Homo sapiens: one gene and its partner. The protein of the gene in region 1 purifies or fractionates together with the protein of each later gene. This does not show direct contact. Each region holds a gene or a part of one and is shown in the gene's direction. Other genes may lie near its edges.

Evidence for each region.
Region 2: the proteins of XPC (region 1) and CETN3 purify together in Homo sapiens (affinity purification with mass spectrometry; 5 studies listed by BioGRID and IntAct, with this or other methods). This does not show direct contact.

The regions. Positions count from the first base shown.
Region 1 is NC_000003.12:14,144,625-14,147,735, reverse strand, and holds the end of XPC (DNA repair protein complementing XP-C cells), read left to right. Parts: exon of another isoform or gene 1-163; intron 164-356; coding exon 357-446; intron 447-1,576; coding exon 1,577-1,795; 3' UTR 1,796-2,589; downstream 2,590-3,111. UniProt on the Homo sapiens protein: Involved in global genome nucleotide excision repair (GG-NER) by acting as damage sensing and DNA-binding factor component of the XPC complex. Has only a low DNA repair activity by itself which is stimulated by RAD23B and RAD23A.
Region 2 is NC_000005.10:90,403,006-90,406,761, reverse strand, and holds part of CETN3 (centrin-3), read left to right. Parts: intron 1-962; coding exon 963-1,077; intron 1,078-3,756. UniProt on the Homo sapiens protein: Plays a fundamental role in microtubule-organizing center structure and function. As a component of the TREX-2 complex, involved in the export of mRNAs to the cytoplasm through the nuclear pores.

The DNA.
Region 1 (3,111 bases):
CCCGCAGACTATCACTGTCCCTGAGGAGCCTGGGTCCGGGCTCTGGGGTCTACTGCCCCTGCTGCCCACACCTGCCTCTGTCTTGAATTGCCTGTGTCCAGGTTCTGGAAGACCTCACCCACTAAAGATTTTGGAGTCAGTAACGATTAAAAAGTTATCTGTTTTTGTGGCTTTCAGGTATAGTATATCACTTTGTAAATCAGATCAATTTTTTGGAAGTGAGACTTGGTGTGAAGGAGAGGCTATATTCTAAAGTGGTGTATATATCTGTCTTTACATTCACAGTTTCCATCTTAATATTTTTCCTGAAAATGTCAGTGCTTAACACTTTTCTCCCACTTCATTTTTGCCTGCAGAAAAAGGAGAAGCGGGCTCTAGGGAACTGGAAGTTGCTGGCCAAAGGTCTGCTCATCAGGGAGAGGCTGAAGCGTCGCTACGGGCCCAAGGTCAGTGCAGGTTCTTTGCAGAGAAGACAAGCTCAGGGTCAGTTTCTTGGAGATGCAGCTCAGAAAGGCCTGGCCCAGATTCTGCCCCAGCCTCAAGTCAGGGATAGCTTTGTGTTAGGACACCTCAGTCTTCTGTCTCTAAGGCCGCTTGTTTTTACCTTGTTGGGAAAGGTGTCCCTGGAGTGAGGCCTCAGCTGGCTCTTCTGCCCCAAGCCCTGTCCCAGTGTCCCCGTTTCTACTGTCCACATGAGCAATGCCATGGGTCTGATTTGGCGCTGAACACATAGGGAGGGCCAAGTGTCCTGCATTTGGTGCACCCTTCCGCCTTCCAGTGTTCCCAGTGCCTGTGACCATGCTGCAGGCCTGCAGTGGCCCGCTCAGTACCTCTCTCACAGCACCTGCCATGTGCCAGGCCAGGCTTGGACACAGGTGTGAATTTGACATGCAGCCCTCAAGGGGGCCCCTCCCTGGGGCAGATGGACCCTAGGCCCAGTTACATGGTATAGTCAGTGCTGTGTCAGACACAGCAGAAACTGCTCTGGCATGTTTTGTTCCCTCTCTCCAACCCTCTGTGCTGCCTGTTTGCCTTTCAACATTTTTTTGTCACGCTCCTCATTCCAGTCCCTCTGGTGGAGAAAAGCCCTTCATCTGACTTTATGTTCTGACCAGCTCCTTGCCGCCTTCTCCATCCAAACCCTCCCTAGCCATCCCAGCTGGCAGGGAGTGCCGCCTCAGATCTTAGGGCTCCGAGGGCTGAACTGTGCATCTTGCCCGTTCAAGACATCATGTGCTTTGGTCCAGAAATGAGGTAGCAAATGCAAGGCACGAATCACAGGCATCCCCAGATGAGGCAGTGTGCTCCTAGAGGGCAGCTTCCTGCCCAGCCATCATCCTTGTGTTCCCCTGCACTCAGCTCGTAGCAGGTGCTCCAGTGTCTGCTTGGATGCACCCCAGGCTGGGACGGCTCAGTAAGAAGGGTCTGGGCTCTCTCCCTGCCCTGTCCCATGCCCTTGTCCTCCCAGAGTTACACAGCTTAGGGCAGGCTGGGAACTTGCTGCCTCTTCATGGGGCTTCCTGGTATCTGATTACTAACCCTCGCCTGTGTCCTCCCACCACTGCCACCTGTCCAGAGTGAGGCAGCAGCTCCCCACACAGATGCAGGAGGTGGACTCTCTTCTGATGAAGAGGAGGGGACCAGCTCTCAAGCAGAAGCGGCCAGGATACTGGCTGCCTCCTGGCCTCAAAACCGAGAAGATGAAGAAAAGCAGAAGCTGAAGGGTGGGCCCAAGAAGACCAAAAGGGAAAAGAAAGCAGCAGCTTCCCACCTGTTCCCATTTGAGCAGCTGTGAGCTGAGCGCCCACTAGAGGGGCACCCACCAGTTGCTGCTGCCCCACTACAGGCCCCACACCTGCCCTGGGCATGCCCAGCCCCTGGTGGTGGGGGCTTCTCTGCTGAGAAGGCAAACTGAGGCAGCATGCACGGAGGCGGGGTCAGGGGAGACGAGGCCAAGCTGAGGAGGTGCTGCAGGTCCCGTCTGGCTCCAGCCCTTGTCAGATTCACCCAGGGTGAAGCCTTCAAAGCTTTTTGCTACCAAAGCCCACTCACCCTTTGAGCTACAGAACACTTTGCTAGGAGATACTCTTCTGCCTCCTAGACCTGTTCTTTCCATCTTTAGAAACATCAGTTTTTGTATGGAAGCCACCGGGAGATTTCTGGATGGTGGTGCATCCGTGAATGCGCTGATCGTTTCTTCCAGTTAGAGTCTTCATCTGTCCGACAAGTTCACTCGCCTCGGTTGCGGACCTAGGACCATTTCTCTGCAGGCCACTTACCTTCCCCTGAGTCAGGCTTACTAATGCTGCCCTCACTGCCTCTTTGCAGTAGGGGAGAGAGCAGAGAAGTACAGGTCATCTGCTGGGATCTAGTTTTCCAAGTAACATTTTGTGGTGACAGAAGCCTAAAAAAAGCTAAAATCAGGAAAGAAAAGGAAAAATACGAATTGAAAATTAAGGAAATGTTAGTAAAATAGATGAGTGTTAAACTAGATTGTATTCATTACTAGATAAAATGTATAAAGCTCTCTGTACTAAGGAGAAATGACTTTTATAACATTTTGAGAAAATAATAAAGCATTTATCTAAAGATTTGGCTCTATATTTTCTTTCAGATTTTTTTTTTTTTAAGGGGTCTTACTGTCTTGCGCAGGCTGGACTCCTGGGCTTGAGTGGTCTTCCTGAGGGCTTTGCCTCAGCTGGCCCTCACAACCACCGTGTGTGGTGGAAAGGCATTGTTCGGGAAACAGTCCCAGCTCCTCAGGACTGCAGGCACCCACACACCACTGCCGTGCCCAGCTTCTTTCAGATTTAAGTCGGTAATAACACCCAGGTGACAGAGCAATGTATTCATATGTTGAGACAGCATGAAAGAGTCCATTTTGTTTTCATGGAGGCTGGAAATTCATTACATATGGAATTCTTCTGTATTTAGTGAAGAGATGTTAATCTTTGAGAGGAGCCATTAAAAATCGGAGTCACTTTTATCCAAGGGAAACAAACAAAACACTTGAGTTATGACTCATATGTGGCAAGAGGCTGGCTGGAACCTCTTGTTGAGAAACAGACTGGGGTTGCTATGGAAACTGGTCTCACACTTCCTCACCAGAGC
Region 2 (3,756 bases), on another chromosome or scaffold:
ATACCTGGAGCTTCCTAAATGATTTCTTACTAGTTCACCTTGTACACTACCACTGAATTTAGATAGTTTAAAAATTCTTTCACCATTGCTCATAAATTGTTCATTGCTCATAAACCATAACTCCTCATTGTATACTACTTAAAGTTCAGATTCCTTTGCTTTCTACTGAATGTTCTCTACACTTTTGCCACCAACTACTTTTTTCATTTGCTAACTGCTTTCTTCCTCCTGAACTCTTCTAATTAAGGTGGAATTCACCTCCTAATTCAGGTGAGCAGTTTACCTCACCTGAACTTTTCTAATTCAGGTGAGGTAAACTGCTCTGTTCATTGTCCTTCGAACCTATTCGTTTCAGTGTTTCTTTTAATACCAGTCATCCTTCCCAAATACCCTACTGCTCCTCTTCATCTATCCTTCAAGGAACAGTTTGAATCTTTCCAAATAAGACTTCTCTAGTCAGTAATATGTCTCCTTCCTTATTATTAGTAACAAAATCTCTTTTTTCTCTAAACTCAGGGTCCTTAGCCCTATCATTTACCTGGTAACTAATCATGGAAAGACTGATGATAATTCTTGTTTTAATGTTTTATCTCTTCTATCATGTAACTGTTTAATATTTATGCCACGCCTTTTTCTCATTTTGATTGTTAATCCCTTCAGAACAAATAACAATCAAATTATCTGTGCAATAAGTTAGTGCATTTTATATAGTAAAATCTGTAAACACTTGTTGGTTACTTTGTCATATAAAAAATGCAATTTATAAATGAAAAAACTTATGCATACTTAATTTCAGTAGTGAAGAACAATTACACTATCACTGCTATTTTAAAGAGGTAAAACATGCAAAAAAGTTATATTTTATTAATGTGTTGTCATCTCTTAAGATGTAAAAACTTAATAATTAGAAATTCTTTTGTAAAGAGTGCTTTATAATTTGCTTTTCCTTTTTAATCCAAAAGGTGGCAATGAGAGCCTTGGGGTTTGATGTAAAAAAAGCTGATGTACTGAAGATTCTTAAAGATTATGACAGAGAAGCCACAGGGAAAATCACCTTTGAAGATTTTAATGAAGTTGGTGTGTATTTTAATAGTCTTTGTAATCAGCAGCTGTTAGGAAATTGTCTGATTAATATCACTTTTTAAATTTTAAATTCTCTAGGTTATGGAATTTTCTTATAGAACACTGGTGTATAATGTGACTCTTACTCAGTTTTGTTTTGTTGGTTTTTTTTTCAAAGAAAAAATATGGCTTTGCTCTGAGATTTATAGTTTTGTCTTTTGTTTTGTTGTGAAGATTCTAACCAAGGAACTATTGTGTAGCTTTTTATAGAAAGATGCTTTTCCAAGTTGTTTGTATTTATATTATGTGATAAAACTTGAAGGGTGATCAAAAAATTATTTTTGCTTAATAAAACAGAAAATTTGATATCCTGCTGTTTGGAAAATGTTTCCCAAGACCTTTCTGGTATGTGATTTTTGTTGGCTAAGTGGGAGAAGAGGGAACTGGTAGTAGTTGGTATCTTTGGCTGTAGATGAAATGCACGACTTCAGGTTGACAAAGTTTATGAGAGGCTACATCCTCTGGATGACCTTGATCTCAGTGGATAAAGTCATCTGTTTAGAGGGTAGTAGTAAAGGAGGCAGTGGGCATACTGGAAGCAGGAGAAAACATCCTAGTACCACCAACTGAAGATAATGTGTCATAGGCTTAATATGGCTAAATTTTTTTATAGTTGATTTTAGTGAATTATTTATAGCATATATAGACCAGGCTTTTTCAAAATAGAAGAGTCCGGAAGGCAAGGATGTTGCTATTATAACTTAAATGTATTGTCTAGAATATTATCTACAAAATATGTAAATATTCAGGTTTATTTCTTTTTTTTTTTTTCTCTAAACCAATGGGTCACGATATAAGCACATCATATAAGTATTTTAAGATATTTTAAAAATTTGGAAACAAATTCTGCTATATACACAAACCCCTTATTTTAAATATTAATCAAGAAGCAATAGGGGAAGCAAAAAGAAATGGCAATTAGTAGACGCAGAGAAAATTTAGATTCATGTCATTAGTCAGTTTTTTAAATCCAAAAGCTCAAGTCATAAGCAGTTGAGATGGAAAATAAATGATGAACCTAAGAGAAAAAAAACACAGCACAGAAGATCCTCAACTTATGAACTAATATATGACTGTTTAGAGAGGCAACTTGTCCATTGGGGACATTTTCCTTTTTTCCTCTAATTTGTAGAATTAATTATTTGAGGAAAGGGAGAGAGCCACCTTTTGTTCTCCCAGAATGGACACTCTCCTGAAGTTTATGATCGTAGTATTCCTAGTTTTACCTTAGATTGTTTATTTGTAGAAACAAGGTGTTTGTATATAGTGGAAATGGTACTATTAGGAAGGAGCTATAATCCAGGTATGTTTAGTACAGTATAGTGGTTTAGCACTTGGAACCAGATTCCCTTGGTTCATACCTTGGTTTTGCCACTTTACAGCTCTGGAACTTGGTCTTTTTAATACCCCATGCCTCATTTTCAACTATAAAGTGGGGATCATTGTATTCTCTCATGAGATTCTTCTAAGGATTAAGTTAATGATATGTGAAGTACCTAGAAAAGGGCCTAGCATGTTGTAAGTGCTACTAAGCATTTGCTATTATTATTACTTTAAAAAATTGTCTTTGTTTCAGGGGCTCGAAATAATCATATATGCATCACTGGGACATAAAATAGACTTTGTGTATATTTTTTATTGACTTTTTTCATAAAGGCTATTGTAAGCACTGTATCATCACTAATAATTTTACAAAATATGTTATTTCACCTTAAATGAACACAATTTAAAAATTGTGATTTTTTTTTTTTTTTTTTTTTTTTTCTTTTGAGACAGAGTCTCGCTCTGTCGCCCAGGCTGGAGTGCAGTGGCGGGATCTCGGCTCACTGCAAGCTCCGCCTCCCGGGTTCACGCCATTCTCCTGCCTCAGCCTCCCAAGTAGCTGGGACTACAGGCGCCCGCCACTACGCCCGGCTAATTTTTTGTATTTTTAGTAGAGACGGGGTTTCACCGTTTTAGCCGGGATGGTCTCGATCTCCTGACCTCGTGATCCGCCCGCCTCGGCCTCCCAAAGTGCTGGGATTACAGGCGTGAGCCACCGCGCCCGGCCAAAAATTGTGATTTTTATTGGCAGTTGGGACCAGAATCCCATGCCACCTCCACTTTTTCCTGACACCCCATCTGTTCTATGTTATTAACAGAGCAGAAATACTGGGTTCCTTCTAGAATAAATAGATGTGGCTAAACTTCAGCTTTGACACTAAAAGATTAACCTTTTGACAGGGTCAACATGTATCTTAGCTATCTTAAGGCTACCTATGGAGAGTACCAGGTGTCAAATAAAAATGTATTACTGTTTGGGAATCATTCAGGAACTATGTATTACCCCTTTTGTTGATTATTTTTAACTAATCACTGACCACAGATTAATATGTTTTATACTTTGGGACAGATGATTCTAAATCATAACATTTGAGTCCTAGTTTTATGAACTACCCAAGGACACTGTTCCACAGATATATCTGGATGAAGTTTGGCAGTTAACTATTATAGACTCTTCCTAGTACTGGAAAAAAGCTTTAAAATATATTTAATTTAAGTTTAGAGTCAAGACAGCCTGAGGCTAGTGAGTAACATAGATATTTTAGGAATTAGTGTCTTTAAGACTAACATAAGTCAAACGTTTGTACACTA